4 separate regions of the Homo sapiens genome follow, and regions 1, 3 and 4 are each reported to be linked to region 2. The links are microRNA targets in miRTarBase. Many come from high-throughput screens and were not tested one by one. Region 2 holds a microRNA gene; each other region holds the end of a gene's coding sequence.
The links. Region 2 holds the annotated microRNA hsa-miR-196b-5p (UAGGUAGUUUCCUGUUGUUGGG, at 1,849-1,870, shown strand). A microRNA usually pairs through its seed, bases 2 to 8, with sites in the 3' UTR of a target mRNA and lowers its output. Matches are read on the target gene's strand: a 7mer-m8 pairs with bases 2 to 8, a 7mer-A1 pairs with bases 2 to 7 and ends in A, and an 8mer does both.

Region 1: miRTarBase lists CACNB3 as a target of hsa-miR-196b-5p. The part of its 3' UTR that is shown has no 7-base or 8-base seed match.
Region 3: miRTarBase lists ARMH4 as a target of hsa-miR-196b-5p. Seed matches in the 3' UTR shown: 7mer-A1 at 5,010-5,016.
Region 4: miRTarBase lists TXLNA as a target of hsa-miR-196b-5p. The part of its 3' UTR that is shown has no 7-base or 8-base seed match.

The regions. Positions count from the first base shown.
Region 1 is chr12:48,825,783-48,833,124 of GRCh38, forward strand. CACNB3 (calcium voltage-gated channel auxiliary subunit beta 3) reads left to right here. Exons shown (of 13, transcript NM_000725.4): 10 at 585-736; 11 at 977-1,072; 12 at 1,192-1,341; 13 at 1,803-3,159. The coding sequence ends at 2,117. DDX23 (DEAD-box helicase 23) reads right to left here. Exons shown (of 17, transcript NM_004818.3): 14 at 6,640-6,791; 15 at 6,296-6,404; 16 at 5,360-5,534; 17 at 3,974-4,910. The coding sequence ends at 4,687. Among named protein-coding and RNA genes, the nearest start is that of CACNB3, 11 kb to the left of the region's middle.
Region 2 is chr7:27,164,900-27,171,397 of GRCh38, reverse strand. It overlaps MIR196B (microRNA 196b), which reads left to right and starts at 1,835; the gene lies at 1,835-1,918. HOXA10-HOXA9 (HOXA10-HOXA9 readthrough) reads left to right here. Exons shown (of 3, transcript NM_001433944.1): 2 at 6,431-6,498. HOXA10 (homeobox A10) reads left to right here. Exons shown (of 2, transcript NM_018951.4): 2 at 1-793. It overlaps HOXA10-AS (HOXA10 antisense RNA), which reads right to left and starts at 2,499. Exons shown (of 3, transcript NR_046609.1): 1 at 2,405-2,499; 2 at 1,634-2,091; 3 at 1-90. It also overlaps HOXA9. RefSeq lists enhancers at 1,633-2,223, 2,224-2,814, 4,004-4,722, 5,571-6,447, 6,448-6,498.
Region 3 is chr14:57,999,287-58,006,628 of GRCh38, forward strand. It overlaps ARMH4 (armadillo like helical domain containing 4), which reads right to left. Exons shown (of 8, transcript NM_001001872.4): 7 at 5,762-5,896; 8 at 1,475-5,518. The coding sequence ends at 5,450. Among named protein-coding and RNA genes, the nearest start is that of SLC35F4, 140 kb to the left of the region's middle.
Region 4 is chr1:32,193,896-32,201,187 of GRCh38, forward strand. TXLNA (taxilin alpha) reads left to right here. Exons shown (of 11, transcript NM_175852.4): 10 at 170-265; 11 at 1,007-4,390. The coding sequence ends at 1,300. It overlaps CCDC28B (coiled-coil domain containing 28B), which reads left to right and starts at 6,700. Exons shown (of 6, transcript NM_024296.5): 1 at 6,700-6,814. RefSeq lists enhancers at 5,359-5,917, 5,918-6,475, 6,688-6,767, 7,026-7,292.

The sequences.
Region 1 (7,342 bases), not on the chromosome of region 2:
ACCACCTGCTTCTGTGCCCACTCAAGTGCCAGTGAGAACCTTCCTCCTCCCTTTTCTTTTTTTTGAGATGGAGTCTCGCTCTGTCACCTAGGCTGGAGTGCAGTGGTGAGATCTCGGCTCACTGCAACCTCCACCTCCTGGGTTCAAGCGATCTTCCCATCTCAGCCTCCTGAGTAGCCGGGACTACAGGCGCCCATCACCACGCCCAGCTAATTTTTGCATTTTTAGTAGACGTGGGGTTTCACCATGTTGGCCAGGCTGGTCTCGAACTCCTGACCTCAAGTGATCGGCCCACCTTGGCCTCTCAAAATGCTGGGATTACAGGCATGAGCCACCATGCCTGGCCCCTCTTCCCTTTTCTCTTCCTTACCTCCTTGTCTTTCTGCCCAACTCCTCTACCTGCCCCCAGGATTGGCAAGAACACACCCCTCCTCCTCAATTCCCATTCCTCTGCCTGTCCAGGCTTCGATGAATGCCCTTTTCCTCCAATTCCTTCCTGTCCACCATTCGGGAGCCCTCAAAGCCTGCTGGAGTGAGCAGTGGGCAGAGCTCCTGGTGAGCACTGCTGCTGCCTCCCTCCATAGCGGAAGTGCAGAGTGAGATCGAGCGCATATTTGAGCTGGCCAAATCCCTGCAGCTAGTAGTGTTGGACGCTGACACCATCAACCACCCAGCACAGCTGGCCAAGACCTCGCTGGCCCCCATCATCGTCTTTGTCAAAGTGTCCTCACCAAAGGTAAGTCAGCTGGGCTCATGGAGGAGGCCCACAGGGCTATCCTACTAGAATGTGGCATGATTCTACTTGGTCCCTGCCTGGGGCACCTGAGTTCCCTTTTCCTGCTGCCCTTAACACAACTCTGAGTCATCCTCACCTGCTACTGATGCCACAAGTGGAAGAAATGCCTAGCTCTGCCCGGGCTCAGCTCTGCCCAGAGTCCTGAGAGACTCCAGGCCTAGCTCTGCCCTCCCCGCTCAGGTACTCCAGCGTCTCATTCGCTCCCGGGGGAAGTCACAGATGAAGCACCTGACCGTACAGATGATGGCATATGATAAGCTGGTTCAGTGCCCACCGGTGAGTGCCTGGGTCAGCTGCTCCTGTGCCCACTCCCCCAGGGCTGCGGCAGTGATAGAGATGGGTGGGGGGCTGCTACTGAGGGGAAACCAACGTTGCGCCTTCCTCCCCCTCCCCAGGAGTCATTTGATGTGATTCTGGATGAGAACCAGCTGGAGGATGCCTGTGAGCACCTGGCTGAGTACCTGGAGGTTTACTGGCGGGCCACGCACCACCCAGCCCCTGGCCCCGGACTTCTGGGTCCTCCCAGTGCCATCCCCGGACTTCAGGTAACCATTTCCAGTGGGCAGAGATGCTCAAGCTAAGCCAGCCAAGGCACTGCCCCTCCCTGCCCAGAGGACTGTCCTTGGCCTCCAGTTCAGCATGCCAAAGGATTGTAGAACTCTCAGCTCTGCTGTACAGAGCTAGCACAGACGGGCAAAGGAACTTCCTGAGGAGAGAGGGAATCAATCAATGAGATGGATACGTCAGAGATTAGTTTCCTAGGGGTCAAGAGAAACACAATCTCCAAACCTTCTCCCAGGCTGCCTTGAAGGCAGAGCCTGAATTTTGCGGGAGTCGAAGCTCCAGTTTTCTCTCTCGGAAGAGGAAAAATGCTCCAGCATGCTTTTTCCTTGCACTATTTCCTTTACCGGGGAATTGAGAGTTGAGGGGGGAAGAATCTCGCACCTCACCAGAAGACAAGGTGAGGTCTGTACTGCCTCACTGAGAGCTGTTGTATGGCCCCCAGAACCAGCAGCTGCTGGGGGAGCGTGGCGAGGAGCACTCCCCCCTTGAGCGGGACAGCTTGATGCCCTCTGATGAGGCCAGCGAGAGCTCCCGCCAAGCCTGGACAGGATCTTCACAGCGTAGCTCCCGCCACCTGGAGGAGGACTATGCAGATGCCTACCAGGACCTGTACCAGCCTCACCGCCAACACACCTCGGGGCTGCCTAGTGCTAACGGGCATGACCCCCAAGACCGGCTTCTAGCCCAGGACTCAGAGCACAACCACAGTGACCGGAACTGGCAGCGCAACCGGCCTTGGCCCAAGGATAGCTACTGACAGCCTCCTGCTGCCCTACCCTGGCAGGCACAGGCGCAGCTGGCTGGGGGGCCCACTCCAGGCAGGGTGGCGTTAGACTGGCATCAGGCTGGCACTAGGCTCAGCCCCCAAAACCCCCTGCCCAGCCCCAGCTTCAGGGCTGCCTGTGGTCCCAAGGTTCTGGGAGAAACAGGGGACCCCCTCACCTCCTGGGCAGTGACCCCTACTAGGCTCCCATTCCAGGTACTAGCTGTGTGTTCTGCACCCCTGGCACCTTCCTCTCCTCCCACACAGGAAGCTGCCCCACTGGGCAGTGCCCTCAGGCCAGGATCCCCTTAGCAGGGTCCTTCCCACCAGACTCAGGGAAGGGATGCCCCATTAAAGTGACAAAAGGGTGGGGTGTGGGCACCATGGCATGAGGAAGAAACAAGGTCCCTGAGCAGGCACAAGTCCTGACAGTCAAGGGACTGCTTTGGCATCCAGGGCCTCCAGTCACCTCACTGCCATACATTAGAAATGAGACAATCAAAGCCCCCCCAGGGTGGCACACCCATCTGTTTGCTGGGGTGTGGCAGCCACATCCAAGACTGGAGCAGCAGGCTGGCCACGCTCGGGCCAGAGAGAGCTCACAGCTGAAGCTCTTGGAGGGAAGGGCTCTCCTCACCCTGCCAGGAAGCTTCTTAACATGTGACAGGACCAGGGACCAGGAGCATGGTGAAGCCAAGTGGCAGATGGGAGCCAACCTGGATGGGGGTTTGGGGAAGGAGGGCATGTGTAGCAGAGAACTTAGGGGGGCCTCCTTGCCTTTCTCATTCTTTTGCCCTGCATCCTGTCATTTCTGTTCTTGTCCCTCATACATCTTTGGAGAACCGGGCTCCAGACTTTGTTCCCTGACTCATAGCTGCCGCTTGTTAGGTTAGGGTTAGATGGGGAGAGACAGGGCACAGAGGACCTGTCTCCCCGGCTACTCTTGCCTTATGGCTCTAGTGTGTGACCTACAGAGCATGCTCCACAAGCCCCTGCCTCACCTCACTGTCATCACTAATAAACATCATGCACAGTCCCTCCGGCTTCTGTTCTGTCTGTGATGCGGCCCAAAGTCTGGTGGAGGGAAAGATGTGTTTGGGCCGCCCTTCTCTCAGAGGATCTGTCCAGCGGGAAGGGGACAAAGGCAGAGCTGGGGAGGCACTCCACTCCCAGGCATCCCCACTCCTCATGCCCAGGTGTCAAGAGGGAGACATCCAGCAGCACGGAAGGGCTTGTCCTGGGATGTGGGGAAGACGCTTGGTCACGGCTTTACAGTATCCTTGCGCCAGGCCAAAAAGGCCCTAGAAGCAGCTACAACTTGAACTCTATGTACTAGGCCAACTCTTTCTGTGGGGTAAGAAGAGCATGTGAACAAGAGGGGTATGGGGGGAGGACTGCAGCCCTGCGTTCCTCTCACCACAGCCTGATACAGCTGGGTCCACCCGTTCTGCACCATCCCCTCCCAGGAGCAATGGGTCCAACTAGGGAGCCACAAGCAAAGCTCCCGAGACCAGGCGTTGGGCACACAGCGGCAGAGTGGTTCCAACTGCCTCACCTGCCAAAATTTCACAACTGCTTTCCTTTCTCACCTTTGCCTAAAGCTCCCTAGAGGGTGTCCAGGCCAGGGCCACACATTACGCGAGGCTAGAGCAGGGGCGGAAGATGCATTACAGTCCTGCGTGGCTTCTGCATCTCCTCTCAAGTCCACCTACAGACTCAAGACTATCAGCAGAGACCCCTCTACTCTTCTCTTAATGTGGCTGTCTCTCATTTTCCAAGCCAACCCACCCCGCACCCAGTGGTGTCCCTCCTGCCAGGGAGAAGCTGGGAAGTTTAACTAGAACTAGATCTAACAGTCTTAATATTCATGTATTTATTCTCAGAACATACAAACTTATCTTCTCAGAGAATAGAAAACAGAGATTTCACTCAGTGACAAAGATGGACACAGCCAGTTCACCGTGTCCCCCCATCTACTTAGAAAATCCCCTGGGGGAGGGGATGCCTAGAGCATACAGCACCCCTTGGTGCGGGGCTGTGCACAGGTCTAAAGACTCTCAACTTCCTTTACCATCCAAACAGGAAAACAGCTGTCCAGATGACAGTAAGATTCCACTGTCTGTAATCCTCATGGTGCCAGGTCTCCTGGGGCATCTAGGGCAATGATGCTACTGCAGTTTATGCAGTTACACAGTCAAGTCTGTGCCAAAGGAGGTCCCATCCGGCGGCCAGGTTTCTGTTCAGTCTGGGGAGCAATGCCAACTGGCTGCCCCCATAGCCTGGCATGAGCTGATGGCCCAGTGCAATCCCAAAGCAAAGAAGGGCAGAACTGGGCCAAGAAGCTGTGGTAATTTGCTCTCCCTGCCTCCGACAGCGTCGTCCTCTCCTTTTGCAGCCCCACACGCAGGCCTCCTGACCTGAGGGTCTGGGCTAGGGAGTTGGATTGTTTTCCTAAGCCCCCATATCCCAAGAGTGAGGACCTGGAAAGAGGGATGTGAGGGTTCTGAAAAACAGGCATCAGGCAGCTTTGGAGATGCCCTCAGCCCACAGGAAGAGTGCTGTGTCAGGCAAAGATGGTCTCTTCCCGGCGCTTCTTGGTGAGGATGGTGCCTGGCTTATGCTGGGCATCTGGGTGGTTGGCTAGTTCGGGGGGACAGGAAGACACTGGGCTTTCCAGGATAGCTTGCTTCAGCTCGTAGAACACAGCAGAGTCCTCTTTTGTGAGGAAGGTGATGGCCACCCCACTCTTGCCTGCTCGTCCCGTGCGGCCAATGCGGTGGATGTAATCTGGGGAATGGGAAGAACGTCACTCAGCATAGCCCAGATGCCCTGGGGAGCCGTGTCTGATGCCTCCACTTCTAGAGGCATCCTTCCCACCCCATCTCCAAAGGCAGGAATACAGCACATGCTGCCTGAACCTGAGGCGCCCACAGTGCCCTCTCCAGGTGCCCATCTCCCCTGTCCTCCTACTGACTGTGGTCCCTACCACACTAAGACCCACAGCTGCCTAGCTTCATTCTTCACACTCCTGAGGACACAAGTGTCATCCCAGCTGCTGGGACAACAAACCCAGGTAAGATAAAGGACAGGAGTGCTTCTCATGGGAGCAAGCAATCCCAGACTTGGAACTGAGGGAGGCAGTAACAGCCTTCCATGGACAGCACCCTGACTTCCAGTGGGACACCATAAGGAATCTGACTTCACCCTGGATTGAAGCTGCTTTCCCTGGAACTTACCTTCAATATTTTTGGCCATATCATAGTTGACAACCATAGACACATCTTGGATGTCAATACCACGACCAGCCACATCTGTAGCCACCAAAATATCCTTGGCCCCAGCCTTGAGGTTGGACAACGCAAACTCTCGCTGCTCCTGGCCTTTTCCACCGTGCAGTGTGCAAGCATTGTACTGTTGGAAGAATGGTGAAGTGAAGAGTGAGCAATGCAATCAAGGAGAGACACAGGAGTTCAGAGGAATGGGACACAGATGAAGGGAGGGTTGGAGAGAGCAGCAGAGTACGAGAAAGGAAAGGAAACAAGAGAATGATTGCAGTGAAAGAAGGAGAGAACAAGTGAGCTGAAGAGAGGGATGAGAGAAAAAGGTGTGGTGTGGCAGGGACACACAGAGTAAGGTCAAAGGCAAAACAGCTGGGAGAGCGGTGGAGCCAGACAGATGAAAAGTCCTCAAAGAGAATTAGGGGCGAGATCAGGGTAGAAAGCAGGGATCAAGAAGTTTAAGGAAGTTGGAGAGCTGAGTGACAGGGACACACCCCTCCCCTCAAGCACCAGTGACAGGAGTAAAGGACACTGATTATCAGCTCCCTTCTGACCATATCACCTCCTCTCAACGTACCTAAGCAGTTTTCACCTACTCTTTTCTACATCCTCAGACTGCCAGGATATGGGTCTCAAACCTTTCCCTGGCTCCACCTCACCAGGATGAAGACCCAAGGCAGCTTTGGCTGGCATTACTGCAGCAGACAGGGGGTCCCAGCAATTGATTCCATTCTCTTTATTCCCTCAAACCACCCTTCACCCTGGTCCTAACTTGTTGATTGCTGGACAGGCTAAAGAAAGGGTGAGACTTGAAAGGAAGAGCCTAGGGGGCCCTGCTAGATTCAGAAAGCAGTGCCACAGAGGCTAGACTTTGTTCTCCCCTGCCAGACACACCCCCATCTTCTCCAGGGATTTGGCCAACACGTCGCAGCCCTTCTTCTGGTTGACAAAAATAATGATGGGTGGGTCAAAGCCTTGCTCCAAGATTGCCAGCAGCTTTTTCCTGGAAGGAAGAGGAGAAAAACAAGATGCATAATACCTCCCACTCCAAGTGAAATGCCCAACCCTCATCTATGAACACTACTTTCAGGGTCTTTAATGCCCATGACATTCTGCCCAAGAAAACAGCAGCTCTTCAACACAGCAGAGCAATTGCCCTGCCCTGCACCTGCACTAAAAAAGTTCTCAGAGCCATTTTATTCTCCACCCTGTTTCCCCTGGCTCAGCTGCCCTCATACCTCTTTTCTGACTCTGACATGAGGAAGACCTTCTGTTCCACACGCTCATGGGGCTTGCCTGCGGAGCCAATGTACACCACAGCAGGTCGCCGAAGATAGCTCCTGGCCAGACGCTCCACCGCTGGGGGCATGGTGGCCGTGAACATGACTGTCTACGAAAACAGGAGGCTCAGCCCTGCACCCAGGCAGGAATAATCATATATCCCACTGTCACCGAAGGCAGGTCAGCCCAGACTAAAGAATCTAAAATGGGCCACAGTATAGGCTTTGATAGCCACCACCTTAGAAAATAGTGTCCTCTGAATTCCCATCCTTCCTGAGTACCTGCTCATCAAGGCACTTTCCATCTTATGATGACAGGAAGGATTGAGAGCATTTGCTAGCACCTGTGGTCCCGGTAGCAGCATGAGTCTTTGGAATCGTTTTTCCAGGGCTAAGCTAAATGGCTCCACCCTTAGGACTGTCAGAGGACTGTACCTAGGCACACTTCATTCTAGAAACATGTACTCTGAGCCCACCTAAGGCAAGAAAGGCCCAAAAGGAGGTTGGCAACCTTGTACAACTTTTCTTTTTTTTTGAGACAGGGCCTCACTCTGTTGCCCAGGATGGAATGGAGTAGTGGCACGACCTCAGCTCACTGCGACCACTGCCTCCCAGGCTTAAGAGGTCCTCCCACCTCAGCCTCCTGAGTGGCTGGCACCAC
Region 2 (6,498 bases):
GGTTTCTTTTTTCTTTCTTCCTTTCTTCCTTGGCCAAGAGAAGGGCTTACAGGCATGGACATGCAGGTTGGCAAACGGGCTTGACTTTGGCTGATTTAAAAAGTGAGAAAGAAAGTAAAAAAGGTTAATTTTTCCTTCCTCTGTAAGATATCCCAGCTTTAAAAAGAAAAAAAAAGAATTACCAAGAGAAGGGGACTTCTCTTCCAGTTTCTGTAAGGTCTTACATTGCCTGACTAAAATGTTTCATTTACCTCTAAATTTCCATATCCTTCTGGCTGTAGATAAATAATGTAGTTTTGTTTATGCATTTGGAATTAGTGGATTTTTTTGTCATTAAAATTGTTACCACTGGTAACATGTGACAAGCACACCACAATTCTCCCTATCTTGTGAAGTTGTTTTTTTAAATCGCCTTGAACAAAAAGTTTTTTTTTTGTTTGTTTTTGCTTTCTGAAATTCACAGAAGCCTAGGAGGACTGGGGTAAGCGGAATAAACTAGAGAAGGGAGACATTGTTTGGATTTCCTTTATACTGTGAAGTTACATGCATAAAAGGGTCAAACCTGTAGATGCAGAAAAAGAAAAAAACTATAAATACAAATCTGTATAAATGTCTATTATTATGAAGAATTGCCAATCTTGTTTTAAGCAAATGCATTCTATCGTTATTATAAATGTTAGTTCTAGCTCTATTTACTTCTAATCTTAAATCAGAATAAATTAATATTGTATTGCTGCTGTGCGTGGAAAAAGACGATGTTTATGTTCTTATAGAATAAAAGCTGTGGAATGAAGCTTTTTAATTTTACCTCTTTTTTGACTTCTTATCTTCACCTTCCACTTTATCCCGTTCACCACTTTTACAACAGGAGGACTAACCCGAGCCCCTGCAATTACTTTAGGCATCTATTTAAATATTACCTAGACGGTCGTAATTTGTCTGGGCCCTATAGCCCTGGTGCCGTAAGGTTTGTCGGCTTTTGTTCAGTTTTATGGCTTGCTAGTATATCTGGATTGTGGCTGTCTTGGACCAGTGATTTCAGTTGAGAGGGGAGCTACATAGACAGAGGAAGCCAAACAGGATTTCTTTCGGGAGCCCCAGGGAGGCTTGCAGAGGCCGGTTATTTTGCGGGTGTCTGGGTCACAGATGACCCTCAATCTGAATCGGGGAGCAGGCCTGGCCCACAGCGCATCTCTAGCCGCTGGAGGCAGCGGTTAGGTGGACCCGGGCTGGACTGCATGGGGGCCTCCCCCTCCCCCAGTACGGCCTCCCCCACCTGGCGGCACTCCTTAGGGCCACGCGTTTCCTGCTTGCCAGAGTGGGGGGGGCGGGGGCTAAGGGGAGGGGGCGCAGGAGCGCGCGCCCCGGCGGGCGGGCAGCTAGGAGGGAGAGGGGGAGAGCGAGAGGCGGGAGGCCGGGGCCAGACAGGGAGCCGGGATCTGTACCGTCCCTGGCGCTTTCGAGCCTTCCACGGCTACCGCCTCTTGGCGCCGGCTCGCTGGGCTGCAAGATTTGGGAAAGCGGCGCGCACACTGCTTCTCGGAGCTGCTCTCGTCTCGCCTGCTCCCCGCCTTTATTCCTCTCTCCCTGCCTTTCCTCCCTCTCTTTTCCTCCCTCTCCCTCCCAGGAATACCTTACTGGGGCCTGTGGCTTCCCCTTCCTTGACGCATTTGCGGCCGCCTGGGGCACTCTGTTGCACTGGCGGGCGCAGGTTGCCTAGGGGCTGGGCTGGGCCGGGCCAGGCGCGATGGCAGGGTTCTCTCCTTGGCGGCGGCGGCAGCGGCGGAGGCGGCGGCGGCGGCGGGCGAGGCAGCCCTTCGCGGGCAGCACCAGAACTGGTCGGTGATTTAGGTAGTTTCCTGTTGTTGGGATCCACCTTTCTCTCGACAGCACGACACTGCCTTCATTACTTCAGTTGAAATCGTCTCCAGGTACCTCTGCGCGCGGGGGTCGGGCCGGGCGGGGCATCACGGCCCTGGTCGTGCCAGGCCTGCGGTGGCAACCTCGGCTTTCCCTGCTCAGGAGCCTCGTGTCTTTCTCCGCAGCGCTTTGCCAGCCGGCCGGCTTTCCCCTTCCACCACACACCTCCACCTGGTCACAGCAGGTAGGGTTAGGTTGGCTGCTCCTTCGCGGACGCCGGGGGCGTGGTAGGAATTCTGGGCTTTGGGCCATTCAAGGTCAGGGGCGCCCGCTTCCATCCTGAGCCTCCCACTGGAGGCCTGCGCCTGCCCAGGGACCTCCTGCCATTCTCTTGTAAGGCTGGAACACACACACACACACACACACACACACACACACACACACCAGTCCCGGGTGTGAGCTCAGGAAAGAACCTCCTTCCAGTGGAGACTCAGGCTGGACTAGGAAGGATAGGGCAGGCTGGGATCCTGGCCTTGTCACTTACCCTTCTCTCTGTAAGCTCGGCCGCTGCTAGGAGTCGCCTCTCTTTTCTTCCTTCTTTTCCCTGTCTTCCCTTCCTCTTTTATCTCTTCTTTCTTTTTTTCTTCTTTCCTTTGCTCCTTCCTGCTTTCTTTTCTTCCGTTGGTCTTTTTTTCATCTTCCGTCTCTGCCAGATTCTATCTCACCTCCTTATCTCCTTCCCAAAGCATCCTTGGGGAGGGGCCCAGAGCTGGCTTCAGGAGAGCCTAGGGGGTCTCACTTTCCTCTGCGGCTCAAGTAGAGGTTGGGAAGTCTGCCGAGGAAGGGCCCGCGTGGGGCGGCTGCCGAGGGCGGTGGGTTTGGGCCTGGTGTGTTACTCTGCAGACAAGGCCTCGGTTATGATCACGACCGGATGGCGGCAGCCTTGCGTTTCTTCGCCTGTCGCTAACGGCTGACTAGGAGATCTGATTAGGGGACATTCGCTGCAGCTTTGTGTGCCCATATCGAGGGCAGGGAGGCCTTCGCCAGCCTCACTGGGGACTGGAGCTGAGGCCCAACCAGCCTCGCTGGAGCCTGGCCATTCGCTGGGAAGCTCTTAGCTGGCTCTTCCCGGCCTGCCGGTCACAGCTTGGGGTTTGACCGCATTGAGGGAGACTGGCTAGGGCAAAGCTTGACTGCTTGCTTACTAGTGGCTTCCATTAGGTACAAAATATGTTCCATACAGCACCTTTGTGCAGCTGGGTGCTGGAGAAGGGGACCCTTCCAAGAGCCAGTATGTTTTAAATGGGCAAAAAGAATCCCAAATTCCAGAGCCATTGATATAAACTTGAGTCATCGTTCCAAATTGTAGTCTACAGATGGGAGCCAGTCTGACCATTTTCCCTACAGAAAACAGAAAACAAACTATCTCTCCCTACTCCCAACACACACAGTTACAGATTCGTGCCCACAAAGCTGTTTCCTTTCCCTGCCTGGACTGGAGGCCCAGGAACTCTTTCGTTGCACAGCCACCGACCTGCTGTCTGAAAGGACCACACACCCCATTCCCTTCAACTCCTCCCTGCCATTTTCTGGACCAGGGCATTGGATTTATTTCAGAGATCACAGTTTCAGAAATCTCAGTCGAGAAGGGGCCGCTTTAAATTATACTCATTTATTATTTCTTTATGCATACGCAATCTCTTTCACTTCGAAAATAAAAGCAGACAAAAAAGTCAGACTATTCTGGCTCCAAACCTTTGGGCTGAAGGAAGACAATATTTGGTTTTCTGATTTTTCTCCGCTTTCTAGGCACCAGTAACATCTGCTTAACACTCAACGCCTGCTAATTGTTCAGTAACTCTCTTATTTTGGGGCTAAGGCTGTTTAAAGGAACAGCTTTTTTACTTAAAAAATACTGAAATAATCAGTGTCTTCTCAGGCATAAAACGTGGAAAAGGCATCCAGACATGCCCAGCCCATTTGCAGACACTTAAAATTGGGAGCCAGGGTTTCCTCCAGGGTTAATTTTTTAAATGAAAATCTCAGAGGCCTGGCGGACTGCGGGGTATTTAGGACACGGTGGACTGTGGTGGGGGTGGGCATGACCTAGAGGAATTTATGGGGCAAGGAAAATATTAGGGGGAGGGAGATGAGGCGGACAGGACGGGGCCATTTCGGAGTTCATTGTGTCGGCCACTTCCCTCTTCCAGGCGCGGGTGCAGGAAGGGGCACCCAGTCGGTATCCGCGCGGCTTGGCAGCCTCGCTGGTATTTGGGAGTCCCAGCCGGAAGTGTGTCAGGGTGTTTGAGGGGGGGATTACTGGAACTGCTGGTGAGGATGAAGGCAAAAGAGAGAGAGAGAGATGGAAGCGCCCGAGGCCGCCAGCCTCGCCGCCAGGGAAGTGGGCTAATGAAAAACACACTGTTGCAGGCACAGTATCCACACGTGAATTTGATTACCCCTGTTCTAGGAGTCGCTGCTTTCTGTTAGGAATTGGGGGCAGGGGGAGTTTCCTTCCAATTAACGGAGTGGCGGCGACCTTTTAATTTACCCCCAACGGGTGAGAAATAAACTTCCCCAACGTGGCCAGGCCCAGGAATGGGACTGGAGTCGATGCCCTTTTACCCCTCCCCGTTCTAATTTCCAGCCCTGGCCTTGAGCTGTGGCTGCCTCTCTTTGGGCCTTGTACCTCTCCGCCGAGTCTCCGGGCCCCGTAGGTAACCAAGGCGAGGCCCGGAGTAGCAGCTGGAAAGGGAGGAAGGAGCCCTGAAAGGCTCACGCGGCCCCGGGACAGGCCACATCGGTGCGGGCCTCCCAGGTTCCGGAGCTGCGGGGTCTCTTAGGCGAGGCTGCCTTTTCCCAAACCGAACTTGCCTTCCATTCATGCCACTTGTAGTTTTTTCCCCAGCTGGGATTCACGGAGCGCAACCAGGCTTGCAGCGCTCATGGTTAGAGCCTCTGAGGCTGGAGCACAGGGCTGGGTCGCCAGCCGCCTGCGCCTGGGAATCCTGATTGCCAGCTGATGAGAAAGGCGGGCTGGGCGCGCGTGTGCGTGGGGTCGAGGGCCGGGGACCGAGCGCGCCGCACAACCAACCAGGCCCTCAAAACCTTCGCCCTGGTGGCGGCTGGCCGCTCCCTCCTGGCCAGCTCCTCCGTGGGGTCCTCGTAGCAAAGGCGAATTTAAGGGTTGCCCGGGCGCCCCTCGCTCCAGGCGGGTAGCTGTGGGGACCTACACCCGCGGTACTCCCTGAGCGGCCGGTCCCTGCCTGGAGTGCCCTGGTAGGGCCGGCGGCGGCTCCGTTTGGGACGGATCCTGCGTTGAATTTGACTTTTCGAGGGCGGCCGCGGGTAAACTCGCCTCTCCCGGGGACCGCAGGGATTATTTACAGGGAGCTCGCCAACCAAACACAACAGTCTAACCTTTCCAAGTCCTCGTAAATTTTTACAGCTGGGAGCCACGGCGAGGCAAACGAATCTGTTGGTCGTTTCCGACTTCCCGCCAGCCTGTGTGGCTTCTGAAACAATAACTCCTTATGAAATATCATAAATATAGATTTAAATACAGTAGAGCGACAATGCGATTTGGCTGCTTTTTTATGGCTTCAATTATTGTCTAATTTTATGTGAGGGGCTCCGCTGGCCGCACTCGCACGCGGGACCCGCGCCTTCTTGATGGCGTGATTAATTGTGATATAAAATAGTCCGCTTAAGAAGTGTGTGTATGGGGGGGGAGACGGGAGAGTACAGAGACAAGGCTAGATTTGATCTTTTAATCGTCGTTGGCCACAATTAAAACAAACCCCATCGTAGAGCGGCACGATCCCTTTACATAAAAACATATGGCTTTTGCTATAAAAATTATGACTGCAAAACATCGGACCATTAATAGCGTGCGGAGTGATTTACGCGTTATTGTTCTGCTGGACGGGCACGTGACGCGCACGGCCAATGGGGGCGCGGGCGCCGGCAACTTATTAGGTGACTGTACTTCCCCCCCGGTGCCACCAAGTTGTTACATGAAATCTGCAGTTTCATAATTTCCGTGGGTCGGGCCGGGCGGGCCAGGCGCTGGGCACGGTGATGGCCACCACTGGGGCCCTGGGCAACTACTACGTGGACTCGTTCCTGCTGGGCGCCGACGCCGCGGATGAGCTGAGCGTTGGCCGCTATGCGCCGGGGACCCTGGGCCAGCCTCCCCGGCAGGCGGCGACGCTGGCCGAGCACCCCGACTTCAGCCCGTGCAGCTTCCAGTCCAAGGCGACGGTGTTTGGCGCCTCGTGGAACCCAGTGCACGCGGCGGGCGCCAACGCTGTACCCGCTGCGGTGTACCACCACCATCACCACCACCCCTACGTGCACCCCCAGGCGCCCGTGGCGGCGGCGGCGCCGGACGGCAGGTACATGCGCTCCTGGCTGGAGCCCACGCCCGGTGCGCTCTCCTTCGCGGGCTTGCCCTCCAGCCGGCCTTATGGCATTAAACCTGAACCGCTGTCGGCCAGAAGGGGTGACTGTCCCACGCTTGACACTCACACTTTGTCCCTGACTGACTATGCTTGTGGTTCTCCTCCAGTTGATAGAGAAAAACAACCCAGCGAAGGCGCCTTCTCTGAAAACAATGCTGAGAATGAGAGCGGCGGA
Region 3 (7,342 bases), not on the chromosome of region 2:
TATGTTCATTCTAACTACTATGAGATAATATTATTTGATGGAGAAGGTGGAGGCAAAATGGATTTGTGTAGCTTTATGGTCCCTTCTCCTGTTAATGATCTTCCTCATTTGTATTCTTCTCCTTGCTTTTCTCTATATTTTTTCAAGCATTGGTCCATTCAGAACTTTGGCATCCTCCAGCACTTTCTAATGTTTTGTGCCATTTTTATATTTGCCTTGCATTATGATTTTCCTCCATCTTCTTCTACCATATTTCTTTGCTTGAAACCACACCTTCACATACCATAAAGGGAAGAGATTTTTTTTCAGTTGTGTTCCTGCCTCTTCAAATTCCTCTGTGGTCATAAAAAAGCCTGTCTTGCCAAAATGTCACGTAGCTATAACCTTGCGCCAAATAGTACATCTTGTTTCCAAAAGCTGTTTTTTTGGCAGCTGGTAGGAACATGGATTATTCATATCTGCAGAAATCACAATCCCTGTGGAGGATTTGATTCTTCTCCCCCAGGTTGTGGCTGTGATTGGAAATAAGGTGTTTCATTTGGACTTCTACAGGAAGAAGACACCTGGAGGCAGACACAGAAGGAAGAGCGAGGTATTCAGTATGCTCCATGCACTCTATGTAATTTTCGGATACCTATATAAAATGTTTTGGCTTTTAACGCTTAGCATTTGGGGAAAAAAATCATAAAATGAAAAACCACTTTTAATTGACTCTTCAAAAATTACTTTAAATGTGTTCTAAAACTTGGCTTTAAAATTTCTTCATACAGTTTTGACCTATGTTAAGAGATACAGGTACTTTAAGAAAGTGTTTCTGGAAAATTGTATTTGAGGCAGTTTATCAGCTGAAGGCACAGCTAAGGCATCGCTAAGGGAATCTGTTACCCTGGGATACTAATTAACTCCAAATATTGCATATAAATTAAGCTAGCAGCTACTGAAAGAAACAGCTTATGGGAAAGAAAAAACTAAAGAGGTTGGAAAGAAAAGCACTGTCTTTTCTAATTAGAGAAAAAGACATCAGGGGTATGGGAGAAACCCTTTTCTCTCCATCCCAGCCTTCTATTCTTTTTCTAGTAGCTTCCATCCTTTTCTCTTTCCTTGTTTTCCTTTCTCCTTTCTCCACAGCAGGTGTGATTTATTGGATAGCATGACCAGGGAAAGTGTCTCTTCCTACAGGGGACTGCTCTCCTTGTCTCTTTTGTGTGTGTGTGTGTGTGTGTGTGTGTGTGTTTGTGTGTGTGTGTGTTAAGAACATTTAATGTGAGATCTACCCTCTTAACAAAAATTTTTGTTTTGTTTTGTTTTTTGTTTTTGTTTTTGTTTTTGAGACAGAGTCTCACTTTGTCGCCAGGCTGGAGTGCAGTGGCGCAATCTTGGCTCATGGCAACCTCCACCTCCCGGGTTCAAGCGATTCTCCTGACTCAGCCTCCCGAGTAGGTGGGACTACAGGCGCGCTACCAGGCCCAATTAATTTTTTGTATTTTTAGTAGAGATGGGGTTTCACCATGTTAGCCAGGATGGTTTCTATCTCCTGACCTCATGATCTGCCCACCTTGGCCTCCCAAAGTGCTGGGATTACAGGCGTGAGCCACCACACCCGGCCCTCTTAACAAATTTTTAACTGCACAGTACGATATTGTTAACTATAGGCACTATGTTATACAGCAGAGCTCTAGAACTTATTCATCTTGCATAACTGAAACATAATTAATCAACATCTCCCCACCTTTAACTTTGCCCAGCCCGTGGCAAGCACCATTTTGCCTCTGCCCTTATGAGTTTGATTATTTTGGATACCTCAAAGAAGTGCAATCATGCATTTGTCCTTCTGTCACTAGTTTATTTCACTTAGCATAATGTTCTCCATGTATATCCATATTGTCACAATGACAGAATTTCCTTATTTCCTATGGCTGAATAATATTCTACTGTATGTATATACCACATTTTCTTTATCCATTCATCTATTGATAGATATTTGCATATCTATCAATGCAATTTCCATATCTTGGCTATTGTGAATAATACTTATAAGCTTATTGTGAATAATATGCTTATAAGCATAAGCAATGAACACAGGCGTACAGATACTTCTTCAAGATCCTGATTTCTATTCTTTTGGATATATGCCCAGAAGTGGGATAGTTGGATTATATAGTAGTTCTATCTTAATTTTTTGAGGAATCTTCATACTGTTTTCCACAGTGGCTATCCATTTTACATTCCCACCCACAGTATACAAGGATTCCAATTTCTCCACATCCTCAGAAACAATTGTTATATTTTGTTTTATTGAATAATAGCCATCCCAATAGGTGTGAGGTGGTATCTCATTGTGACTTTAAATGACCTTGTCTCTATCATAAGGAAGTGGTTCTCTAGATAGATCCCTCCTAGCTGTGTTCCCAAGCTTGCTGGGGCATGAATACCCCAAGCTCCTTCCCTGGAGATTCTAACTCATCAGGTCTGGGGCAAGGCCTTGAGATCTGTATGTTTCACAAGTGTCCCAGGTGATTTTTATGAGCCTGCAAATTCTGGAAACACTGCCTCTCCCTCCGAGAAGAAGACCTAGTTCCTGCCCCTGCGGTGGGATGCTGGCAGTTCTGGCTGGGTAAACTCAGTCCAGTGGGGATGGTGTTCACAACTGAAGCTGCAGGAATCAGCCCTCCTTTCCAGACAGCTTTATTTGTTTCACTGTTAAATGTTTTAAGCCTAGTTGTTTGAATAAAAAGTTGACTTTCTATTTTAATTGTGCAAATATAAGCATACTTGTCACTTATTTTGGGTAAACCTACAAGTGCCTGATTTACTACTTCTCAACTGGACCACTATATAACCACTGGCCAGCACTTCCATCTCGTAGCAGCATCTCTAATCCCAGGTTTTGTTTAAAATATGACAACCTTTTCTGATCCTCTTAATAATCTAAGCCAACCACTGAAAATCATTATTCCACAGCCACCAGCAGCAAGGAAAATGGCCAAAATAAACATGTCATTTGTACCATCCACCGACCTTCCACTCAATCCAGATGTTTAAATGGGTTTGTACAGAAATGTACTCTAAGTATAATCTTTTCCTTTAAGAAATCATGTGTCCCAAAAAGGACCACAGAGATACTGTGTTAAGCCAAAATTCACATACATGTCATCCTCACGGACCTCTGAGAAATGAAAATATGGGTCTGTTATTTGGGAATTTATTACACTACAGTTTGAAGATTCAACCTATTAGCCATGGTTTAGTTAAGACTATAGATTGAGTAGCCCAAGGCAATAATGGCCACTAGTATCACCCATGTGCTACTCAGTTAAGTGGCCTACGACGTATTCTCAACAAATAGTTTGTCAAGAATACAAAGACAGTAATGCCACACCATGCTCACTTACTCCCAACCTTAGAAACACTTACAGCAAAGGGCTGCTCTTAGAAAAGGAAAACATCCCTTATGCAATATCAGGATGTCTCTACTCGTGAAATTACAAATCACTTCTGAGTGTCATGATTCTGAATTCTATTTTTAAAATCTGACCTTGAGCTAATTTGCCAGTTGCTAACTTCTATTTGACTGTACAGAGCTTTTCACTTCTCTTGATCAGTTTCACATATTTGCTTACATCTCTTGGCAAAAAGAGTTAAAATTATTTGATGAAAATGTTCTTGTGAGCCAGACATTATTCAAAAACGGATTCTAGGAAGGTTTATTAGTTCCATAGAGGTGATACTCAAATGTATGACTGTAAAGGAAATAACTGATAACTGAGATGGGGAAGGAAAGAACTTGTGTGTGAGTAAGAGAGAAATTAGAAAGGCATCATTCATTTAACAAAGATGGAAATTCACATCAAACGTTCCTTGACCAGGCAGCTATTCCCTGCTATTCCCTTAGAACCTTTGTTTTAAAGAAGGACCCTGAAATGTCACTGCTTCCACCAAAGTCTATGAAAAGGTTACTGAACTGAAGATAAGGGTGCATGGCTGGGTCCAAGTGGGTTCTCACGCTGATTCTCTCTGGGTACAACTTTGGAAAATCATTTCACTTCTCTGCTTCAGTTCCATCTTCAGTCAAATGGGAGAATAAAAACATATGTCCTACCTCACATAGTAGCTCTGAGGAATAACTGTGCAACTTTTCTTGAACATAGTAGACAACTTCTAATAAACACCAACAAGTACTCCACAGTGACAGCACTATTAATAAATAACTTTTATTCTTCCATGGCAATGAGCCAAGCCTTTACCCCAAAACTCAACTACAAATCCTCAATCCCTAGATTCAAATAGCGCATTGGAATATCCTATTTTGTATAGGGCAGGGAATTACATTCCAAGGGAGATGAGAAATGATTGAACATATTTCAATATCCTCATAGCGGGGTGCCCTGAGAGAGGCTGGTTTCCCATGAGCTCTGTTGTTCACCAGGACTCTGGCCACTGGGCAGACAAACGATAGAATGTCTATTTTTCTAATAAAGCCATATAAGGACCAATGGTAGCCCACCTTTTCCATGGTGGAGTCCACAGATGTGGAAATACAACACTCTGAATTAGTCACATTAGCAGCCACATAAGCATAGAACCAAATGGCAGACAGAAATGCTCTGAGAGCTTACCTACCCTCATCTCATTCTTGAATTCTTCTTCATTTTTTCTCGGCAAAATCAACTAGCACACAAAAAGAATATCTCTTAATCATAAACATGTATGACATGTATGATTGAGTCTGTTGGACTCAATCACACTATTTAAGACAGCAAACGTACATTAAGACTAAGAGTCAGTTTAATGTATTATTTCTAGTGCATTTTTTTCCTCGCCAAGAATAAAACGGAAGGTGAGAATAATAAAACTAGGAGACTGAAGTACATAATGCAAAATACATACAAATCTACATATAATCCTAATATGCTGAGAGAGCTTCTTAATGAAAATGATTTCATTCTGAGTTACTGCTAGTTTGATGCAAATGCAGTATGTACCATGGCCCACAACCCTGTGGTTTCAAGTAGGTAGAGTATATCTTGAGAAGTTATTCTTTGTTAAGATTTATATCTCAGAGTCAAGCATGCCTTGGTGGCAACAATCATTATTCTCAATGCAGGTAATTCAAACCAAGGAAAAGACACTGTGGAAAACTACAAAATATTTACTCTGCCTAATGTAGCAACTCCTACTGAAAAACATATATGTTGCATATTTATGAGTTGTAGCCCACGGTTGTGGAAAATTCACTACAGAATAAAACCAAATACTGCATGATACGTTTAGTATACAACATGCCATTTCTGCTCAGTACAAGAAAAATCTACTACCCAGCACCCAGCAGACACTAGGACTAACGGCCTGATAGCAGCAATGTGGCAGGTTGTTCTTTTTTTTTTTCTGCTCCAAAATAAAAATTAGAATAGTAGCATCGTTGAATATCCCAATTAAAACCCAGTCCAATTCAAAATTCATCTTCAGAGCTGTCGGCTAAGAGCATTACTCGATCTTGCATGCTGTTGAATTCTCTCTGCTAGAGAAAGAAAACAGAAAAGCATTAAACTCTTTCTGCCACAGAGCAAAGCTGAGAAACAGGCCCACTTTAAAAGACATGCTAACAAACGAAGCCAAGGCAGGAGCTACAGCAGCTAATCCAGACCACTGGGCACGTCAATACCACCCAAGCATCATTAAACCCCGTGTGCTTTATTAAGTAAATTAGATAAGCAAAGAATGTTCTGAAACTGATTAGGTTTTGCTGTTGTTGGTTCCATACCTTTCTTTTATGCCTTTTGAAGCCATTTCTCCTTCGGCGATTCATAACCTTAATGCTGTAGAGGGCTCCCAAGATGAACAAGGCTCCAGCTATCCCAACCCCTACAGGCACCAGCATCCCAGACATGTAACCAGCCTGCATAGAAAAGGAAACACACATTAGGATGCTAAACAGAGCGCGCCGCCCTGGGTTTCTCATTTCTGCTGGATGGCAGCAGGTTTTTAGACACTTTGAATTCTCCTGTCTGCTTTGTTGTAAGATAAAACTAAGCCTAAAATACAGTAACTTTTTAGGGAGAAGGCAACAGAGAGAGAGACAGGCCTATTTTGGGGATATTTCAAATACATAGAAGTATTGAAATAAATCAGCCAGACCTAGTGGCACCTCCAGCCACTAGCTTATGCACATTTGTCAACCTCAGGTTCTGATGACAGAAATATAATTTGTATTAAAGATGGATGAAGTAAGCCTCTGAGAATGCCAGGACTACTAAAATGCTATAAATTGGAAATATCAGCCAGAGTCAAGCTTAAAGGAGGTCAAAGTGTCCTCTGGAATAGTGTGTTTGCTGGGGGCTAAAAGGAGGGCCTTGACAGTGGTGGTCCTCTCTTCTCCCTCTCTGTCTGTCTTGGCTGCATTACAGTAAGAAAAGAAAGATGAAAATGCTTGTGGGTAAAAGGGGAGGGCTTCTGAAAACAAGGAAAAAAAAGGCCTGCAAAGGCAAGAGGAGGAATGTTAGATGTTGGAGCAAAGGCAGAAAAGACAAGGACAAGGGGAGAGTGTGCACACAAAATGGATGGACTGATTTCTGTGAATGGAATCACCTTCCCAACAGACAAGACAAAGTTGGAGGTTGGGAGGGAATTCTGAATGTCCCAGCCCCAAAGAAAGGAAGTGGCAGAGAAGTACACAAAGATCACTGCCAACAACACGATACCTCCAAAAGATCCTGGAAGTGTCAAATTCATCGATGTCTCCAGGGTCTCCAAGGTGTCACTATGGATACCTTTATCCTCAGAGAGCAGGATGATCCCTGGACTTGAGTAAGTACCTCAGGACCTACCTAAGCTCAGGGAAAGGCCATTGTACTCAGAGTGATCCCTACACCTTGGCCAATAAGACTCCTATGGGCTAACAGGGTATGTACTAACCTATAGCCCTTTCATGGGGGAACACAGGTAATGGTTTGCCTCCCAAGAAGCCCTTCTTAGAAGTCTACCCATGCAAAATACATAAACAATTTAAATTGTTCATAAGTCTATTCATTTATATGACTATTTTTTAAATTTTTAATACAGCACAAACTGTTTTAGTATTTTTCAAAGTGAGCCAAAAATGGAGCAGGACAGAGGATAAAAGTTTTCCTGAAAGTGCTGAAGTATGCAGGCTGTGATGTTTTCCCAACATTTCTAGCAGGACATCCAAAGAATACATCAGAGTTTATGAAACAGCAGCACTTTCCTCTTGTGCTCAGCCAGCTCCCTCACTGTTTCTGCCTCCCAGAGTCTTCACTTAGGGCAAAATATGGAAATTCTTCCATTAATTTGAGAACAATAGCACTGTTCCTCAGCATACTAAGTA
Region 4 (7,292 bases), not on the chromosome of region 2:
TTCCTGGTGGTGAGGTGGCACAGAGGGCATTGACTGCATCCTGTAATGCCTTGCGCCTTGGGATCAATCATTCCCCACCTTGGAGACACAGGTGCAGTCCCCACCTTGGAGACACAGACCTTGGAGAGGCCAGCTCTGACCATTTCCTTCTGTCTGTCACATAACCTAGATGACTAAGAAGATCAAGAAGCTGGAGAAAGAAACCACCATGTACCGGTCCCGGTGGGAGAGCAGCAACAAGGCCCTGCTTGAGATGGCTGAGGAGGTGGGCTGTCTGTGATCTGCAGCCAGGGTGGGGGTGTGCACTTAGCGCATATCAGGCCCTTTCCTGTATGTTCTACCCATCAGTGACACAGCTAGCATGAGGTAGAGGTGAGATTTGCACACAATGTCCAAGTCCAAAGTTAATGCTGTTCTCTCCCCATGGGAGGTGGTGAGCCCAGTGGTAGGTCTCCAGTGGGAGTGAAGGGAGCAAATGGAAGAAAGGAATAAAAGAGCAGAAAAAAACGGGTGCCAGTGATGTGCCTGGTTTACATGTAAAGCAGCCCAGGTAGTTTGTGATTTCACAGCTTGTAATGTAGAAGAAAGGAACTAACGATGGAGCAGCAACTGCAAGCCAGACCTTGCTGAAAGTTTTTGGGTTTTTTTTGTCTTTTTTGCTGCTGAATGTTTTTAGGTACGTTGTTCATTGAACCTTCTCTTGAGCTCTGAGGATGGTATTAGTAGTCCTGTTTTATAGATGAGACAGGCTCAAAAGTCAAGTCCTTTGCCAAGGTCACGTGGTAGATAAATGGAGGAATACGTTATCTCCAAGCCGTGCCCCTTTTCTGCACCATGCTGCCCCACCTGACAGCCTAGTCATGGCTTCAACTAGGACTGTTTCCTAGAGGGGGCCAGCTTTGGACTCGGTCTGCTCTCAGCCTTGTTAAAGTGTTTGCCGCCAAGTGGTGATGGTAAGTGGGAGGTTGATGGGGCACGGCACTGAAGGTCTCATTTCTTTCCCTAGAAAACAGTCCGGGATAAAGAACTGGAGGGCCTGCAGGTAAAAATCCAACGGCTGGAGAAGCTGTGCCGGGCACTGCAGACAGAGCGCAATGACCTGAACAAGAGGGTACAGGACCTGAGTGCTGGTGGCCAGGGCTCCCTCACTGACAGTGGCCCTGAGAGGAGGCCAGAGGGGCCTGGGGCTCAAGCACCCAGCTCCCCCAGGGTCACAGAAGCGCCTTGCTACCCAGGAGCACCGAGCACAGAAGCATCAGGCCAGACTGGGCCTCAAGAGCCCACCTCCGCCAGGGCCTAGAGAGCCTGGTGTTGGGTCATGCTGGGAAGGGAGCGGCAGCCCAGCCAGGCCTGGCCCATAAAAGGCTCCCATGCTGAGCAGCCCATTGCTGAAGCCAGGATGTTCTGACCTGGCTGGCATCTGGCACTTGCAATTTTGGATTTTGTGGGTCAGTTTTACGTACATAGGGCATTTTGCAAGGCCTTGCAAATGCATTTATACCTGTAAGTGTACAGTGGGCTTGCATTGGGGATGGGGGTGTGTACAGATGAAGTCAGTGGCTTGTCTGTGAGCTGAAGAGTCTTGAGAGGGGCTGTCATCTGTAGCTGCCATCACAGTGAGTTGGCAGAAGTGACTTGAGCATTTCTCTGTCTGATTTGAGGCTCAGACCCCTCCCTGCCCTTCAGAGCTCAAGACAAGTAATACACCCAGGTCTTGACTGCATTTGTCTTGTGAGCAGGGCTTGCTTGGTCAGCTCAGGCCCTCCTAGCTGCTCTGGAGGCTCCTTTGATTCTCTAGACCTGGAAAAGGTGTCCCTAGGCAGAGCCCTGGCAGGGCGCTCAGAGCTGGGGATTTCCTGCCTGGAACAAGGGACCTGGAGAATGTTTTTGCGTGGGATGATGTGCTGGTCAGGAGCCCCTTGGGCATCGCTTCCCCTGCCCTTTGGTAGTGCCAGGACCAGGCCAATGATGCTTCTCAGTAGCCTTATCATTCACAGGTGCCTCTCTAGCCTGCACAAATGATTGACAAGAGATCACCCAAAGGATTATTTCTGAAGGTGTTTTTTTCTTTATTTCTTTTTCTTTTTTTTTTTTTTTCTTTTTCTTTTTTTTTTGCACATGACAGTGTTTGTATTGAGGACCTTCCAAGGAAGAGGGATGCTGTAGCAGTGGTGCCTGGGTGCCTGGCCTCCAGTGTCCCACCTCCTTCACCACCCCACTTGGCTCCTTTGCCATCTTGATGCTGAGGTTTCCTGTTTGGTGAGATCAGGTTGTTTGTGGTAAAAGAAAGGAAAGGGCTTCTGATGGCTTTGCCACAAGCTTACCTGTGGGTTTCAGTCCTGAGAGGCCACCACCAGTTCCCATCAGCACTGTCTCCATGCAGCAGTTGCTGGGTCCCATGTCCAGCTGCCTCTTTGGCTTCATGGGTTTTTCTGCTTCCTGCCCCCACCCCCACATGTGCAATCCTCAAGATTTGTCCTGATTCTATTTCCTGGCACCTCCCTGCCTGTCCTTGGGGATTCTACTTCTTCCTGTGTGGGAGCCCATAGCTGTTGTCTAACAGGTAAGAAATGAAATTGAACTATTGACTGGGCCCCAGAAATCCATAAAATGGCTGCAGACAGTTGTTTCTGTGTCCTGTTCTACCCCCACTCCAGTACATAACTACTATGTACTGTGTAGAGCCATTCTATATGCTGAATGTTCTGCTGTTGCAAACTTGCCAGGGTATTAGCCAGTGTTTGTGCCAAGCAGTTTTCTGGGACAACAGAATGACTCAGACCAAGATGGATAGGATGGTTAGGGCTTTGCTTCTTGCTGTTTTTCTTTGAAGCTAGTTCATTGTCCTGCAGGTCCCTTCATCTTCCATACCTAGCCCACTCTTTTAGCCCTTACCTTAAATCTCTCAGATAAGTTGGTTCACAAAGAATGTTAAGTACTGAATCATGTGTGACTGAGACCAGAGATGGCAAATGAATGGCACACCATTTCTCCTTCTCCTGCCCCAGGGCAGGTACCACTGATCTGCATCAGAGTTGCCTGCTATTCTCTGGTGTATCCTTCACATCTAGGTGCCCTCAAGCAGCTGTGTGAGTGTTGAGATCTCTGCCATCTCTGGCTGAGATACTGCTGTCCTGTGAAGTGTTTCCCATGACCTTTTTCTTCCCCTTTGAATCCCTCTGTCTGGAGTAGTCCTTGCCTCTTCCTGCTCCAGTAGGGCCTTTTCCCTACCCCAGCCCCTGTGCCAGGCTAAGCTGGTACAAGAGCTGCCAACCTCACAGAGTGTTTGCTAGGCGAGAGAGGTGCAGGGAAGAGGCAGAGGTATGCACCTTCCCCCTTGAAGAGAGGGGAAAGGCCTACAGTGGCCCACATAATTGCCTGACTCACACTTCAGCTACCTCTTAATGCCTGTGGAGGGACTGGAGCTGCTGGATCCCAGTGTGGTGGTGTAGGAGGCCACAGTGAGCAGGTGGCCCCAGCTGGGTTTCCCAGGTCAGGAATGTGGGCCCCAGGCAAGGTGCAGCCTTTGCTCACAGCTCCATCCATGTCTAGACCTTCAGGCCAGTCTGCAGATGAGGTTCCCTACCTTTTTCTTCTCTTCATTGACCAAATCAACCAATCACTACAGCTGCTCTGCTTCTGCTTTCCAAAGTAGCCCAGGTCCTGGGCCAGATGCAGGGGAGGTGCCTATCCATGAGTGAAGGCCAGTGTCTTCCTCACCTGGGTGGGTCCCACACTTGTGACCTCAGTTTTAGGACCAAGATCTGTGTTGGTTTCTTAGATTGCTAGCTTTTCCTCCAGGGGACCACAGCAGGTGAAGCTCAAGAGCGCATGGCTCTGCTAATAGTAAATTGTTTTCAGGGCCTTGTCCAGCTGAGAGCTTCATGTCCACCAGATTCTGAGAGGTGTCAGCAGCACTTTTTTTTTTTATTTGTTGTTTGTTTTCCATGAGGTTATCGGACCATGGGCTGAGCTCAGGCACTTTCTGTAGGAGACTGTTATTTCTGTAAAGATGGTTATTTAACCCTCCTCCACCCCATCACGGTGGCCCTGAGGGCTGACCCGGAGGCCAGTGGAGCTGCCTGGTGTCCACGGGGGAGGGCCAAGGCCTGCTGAGCTGATTCTCCAGCTGCTGCCCCAGCCTTTCCGCCTTGCACAGCACAGAGGTGGTCACCCCAGGGACAGCCAGGCACCTGCTCCTCTTGCCCTTCCTGGGGGAAGGGAGCTGCCTTCTGTCCCTGTAACTGCTTTCCTTATGGCCCAGCCCGGCCACTCAGACTTGTTTGAAGCTGCACTGGCAGCTTTTTTGTCTCCTTTGGGTATTCACAACAGCCAGGGACTTGATTTTGATGTATTTTAAACCACATTAAATAAAGAGTCTGTTGCCTTACTTGTTTCTCTCCTGACCTGTGTATTCCTTTGTTTCTGGATCTGATCCATTCAGCCCCTTCCATCATCACTGACTTGTTCAGGTCTGCTGCAGAGCGCCCATGGTGGTTCCCTGGTATCTTACATATTCCACAGTGTCTTTGAGCAGTCGCCACAGCCTCAGGATGCTGGCATATTCACTTGAGCTGCCTGAGTGGAGCCCTTGGCAAAGTTGGCAAGACCCTTGCCTCAGAGAGGATCACACACACACAAAAAAGTTTTCCCTGACCTGGGGGCTCACAGGCTAGTGAAGGGAAAAGGTACTTTTAGCTATAGACAGGTCAATGGTGCTGAGAGCAGAGAGGAGGCCCCTGCCCCCTTCAGCAAGGTGAGGGGGTGATACCTGGAATGGCCTTCTGAACCACAGGGCAGGTAGAAGATGAACGTCATTTAGTGATTAAATGGTACAGCTGGGAAGCAGGTCCATGGGACTGGGAGAGGGGGTGAGGCTGGGCCCAGAGTCTGGGTACCAGGTTAAGGAATGTGGGCTAGATCCAGAGGGCAGGGGGGGCAACTGAAGGTGTTTCAATAGGAAATTGATAGGCTCCAGCAGTAAGGCAAAAGGCATGGAGCCAGGCATAGGCCATTTGAGGCCCAGGTTAAGAGGGGTGGACACTCATCACTGCTATTTGGGTCTGAGCTGTGGGTAGGCTCCTATAGCCCTGGCCTGCCCAAGGGAATTCACAGGGGCCTCTAATTGTATGCATTCCTTAAGGAGAGCACATTCTCTGTTCAGTTTTTACACCCCCCATTTACCCACCTCAAGCATGGGACTCCTATATGGGAGACATGCTGCTGGTGGCCTCACCCAGCACCCTGTTCTCTCTGGGTCCTGGGTTGGTCAGGCACAAAGGATGATATGTGCTGAATGCCCAGGAAATGGCAGAGACAACCCACCTGCCCTTCCCTCCAGGCCTCCACAAATAGATGTGCCCACAATGACTGTGACAGTCCCAGCAGAGCCTCTGACCCTTCTAGCTGGGTCCTGATACATGTTTTCCATGCTGGCCATGTTATTTCTAGTCGCAGATCCTCTGGAGGGTGTGGGGGGGGTGCCGCCCCAACTCTTGGAGATTCCAAGCAAAGCAGCTCTGAGAATAATGAGGTTTCTGACCCCCCAGTGAAGCAGCTGAGGATGGGAACCACAGGGGTGCTCCCTCTGTCAGCAGCATTACCACTGTCTACTCTAGCAGCTCCGGTGGGGAAGGAGAGGGATTTCTGTTGTCCCCAGTCTGGGCCCCTGGTTATTGAAAAAGTTCGGAATTACTCTTTACCCTTGTGGAGTGTTCTGAGTGTTGGAAGTACCCAGGAAGAAGCCCTGAGCAGGTGCCCTCAGGAGCAGTGCCCATGGCTCCCCACATCAGCCAAGAGGCCCAACCCCAGGAAGCCACTCCTGCCCGGGGATGGGGAAGGTGGGCTGGGTGGCTGTGTGCACTGCCCTGGGCCAGCTCACTTGAGCCTGCTGAGCCGCCTGGCCAAACATGAGCCTCTCTCCTGTTGTATCAGATGCTGTTCTGGGGACCTGCGCCAGGAGCCTCTGCCAGGGCTTTAAATAGCTGCCCCCATTGATCTGGCTGCAGGCAGCAGCAGTCACACTGGGTCAGCCTCCATCAGGTGCTCAGGTTTCCCTGAGGACTGGAGTCAGGTGCCAGGGAATCGCGTGGTCTACCTTATGACCTGGTGCTCCCCACACCTGTCTCCTAGGCCTGGGGGGTGGGGAGGACTCCTGTCACTTCATCTGCGGCAAAATACAGCCCCCACCACTTACCAGAGAAAACTGTCTGGCATTGTAGAGAGAGGGGTTTTGCCCTCAAAAGACTGTTGCTTACTTTCAGTAGAATGGGGAATGACACTGGTATCTTCCTTAAGGGTTGTTATGGGGATGAAATGTATGTAAAGTGCTCAATAGGGCACTGGACTCACTCCATTGATGGCTGTCTTTGCTCGAAGTGTCTTCCTGATGCTGCTGCTGTTGCTGCTTGTGCTTCTTCTGTGCTTACATTCTCTCTCTCTCACTCACTCACTCTGTCTCTCCTCTCCCCCGCCCCACCCCCTTTCTGACAAAGCCACCACCATTTTGTAAGGAACTGTAGCTTCTCTCTGAAACTGCCGGGAAAGGGAAAATCTTTTTAAAATAGACATCACACAACCAACAGGGTCCCCTAGGTTCAGGCGGGGAGGTGAGGTCGAGTGAGAGGAACTGCTTAGCATACGCGGGGATGCTCCTCCCATCTCACCCCACCGCGCTAAGGAGAAGGTCACTTTCTCTTTAAATGCAAATGAACTCCCTCCAGCTTAGCTTTCACCCGGTGGTGTTCCCGGGAGGAGAGGGCGGAGGGCGGAGGGAACTTGCACCGAAGCATCACTCGAGACCCCAAACCTCCAGGTCAGTAGCCCCCTGAGGGAGTGAGGGCGGGGGCGGAATGACGCGGGTCTGACGCTCTGTCTTCGAGCGCGGCTGCGGAGCTGAGCGATGAGTTTGGCACATGGCTTTGGAGCCCGGGCTTGGGAAATAGATCCCCGGTCGCCCCAGCCGCTCCTGGGGAGCACAGGCTCCGGCTCCAGTTCTTCTATCAGGTCCCTAATTGGGTCAAGCTGCTGCACGGAGAGGCAGAGGATGCGCTCCTATCTCCCCTCCCCACACCCGCAGACCCCGTCAGTGGCAGCCAGCTATGTGTCAGTGTAAATGCTTAAGCGCCACCCACCCCCCCAACCCCCCCAGTCCCAGAATTCGAAGTTAGGCTCGGTAGCAGCAGCCTGGAATGAGACCCCCAGAGGAGGGAACCCCAGCCGACCGGAGGCTTGGGGGGCGCTGCTGGACCGGGGACCTCGGAGCAGCCCAGCCACAGGCGCAGCCTTTGTCG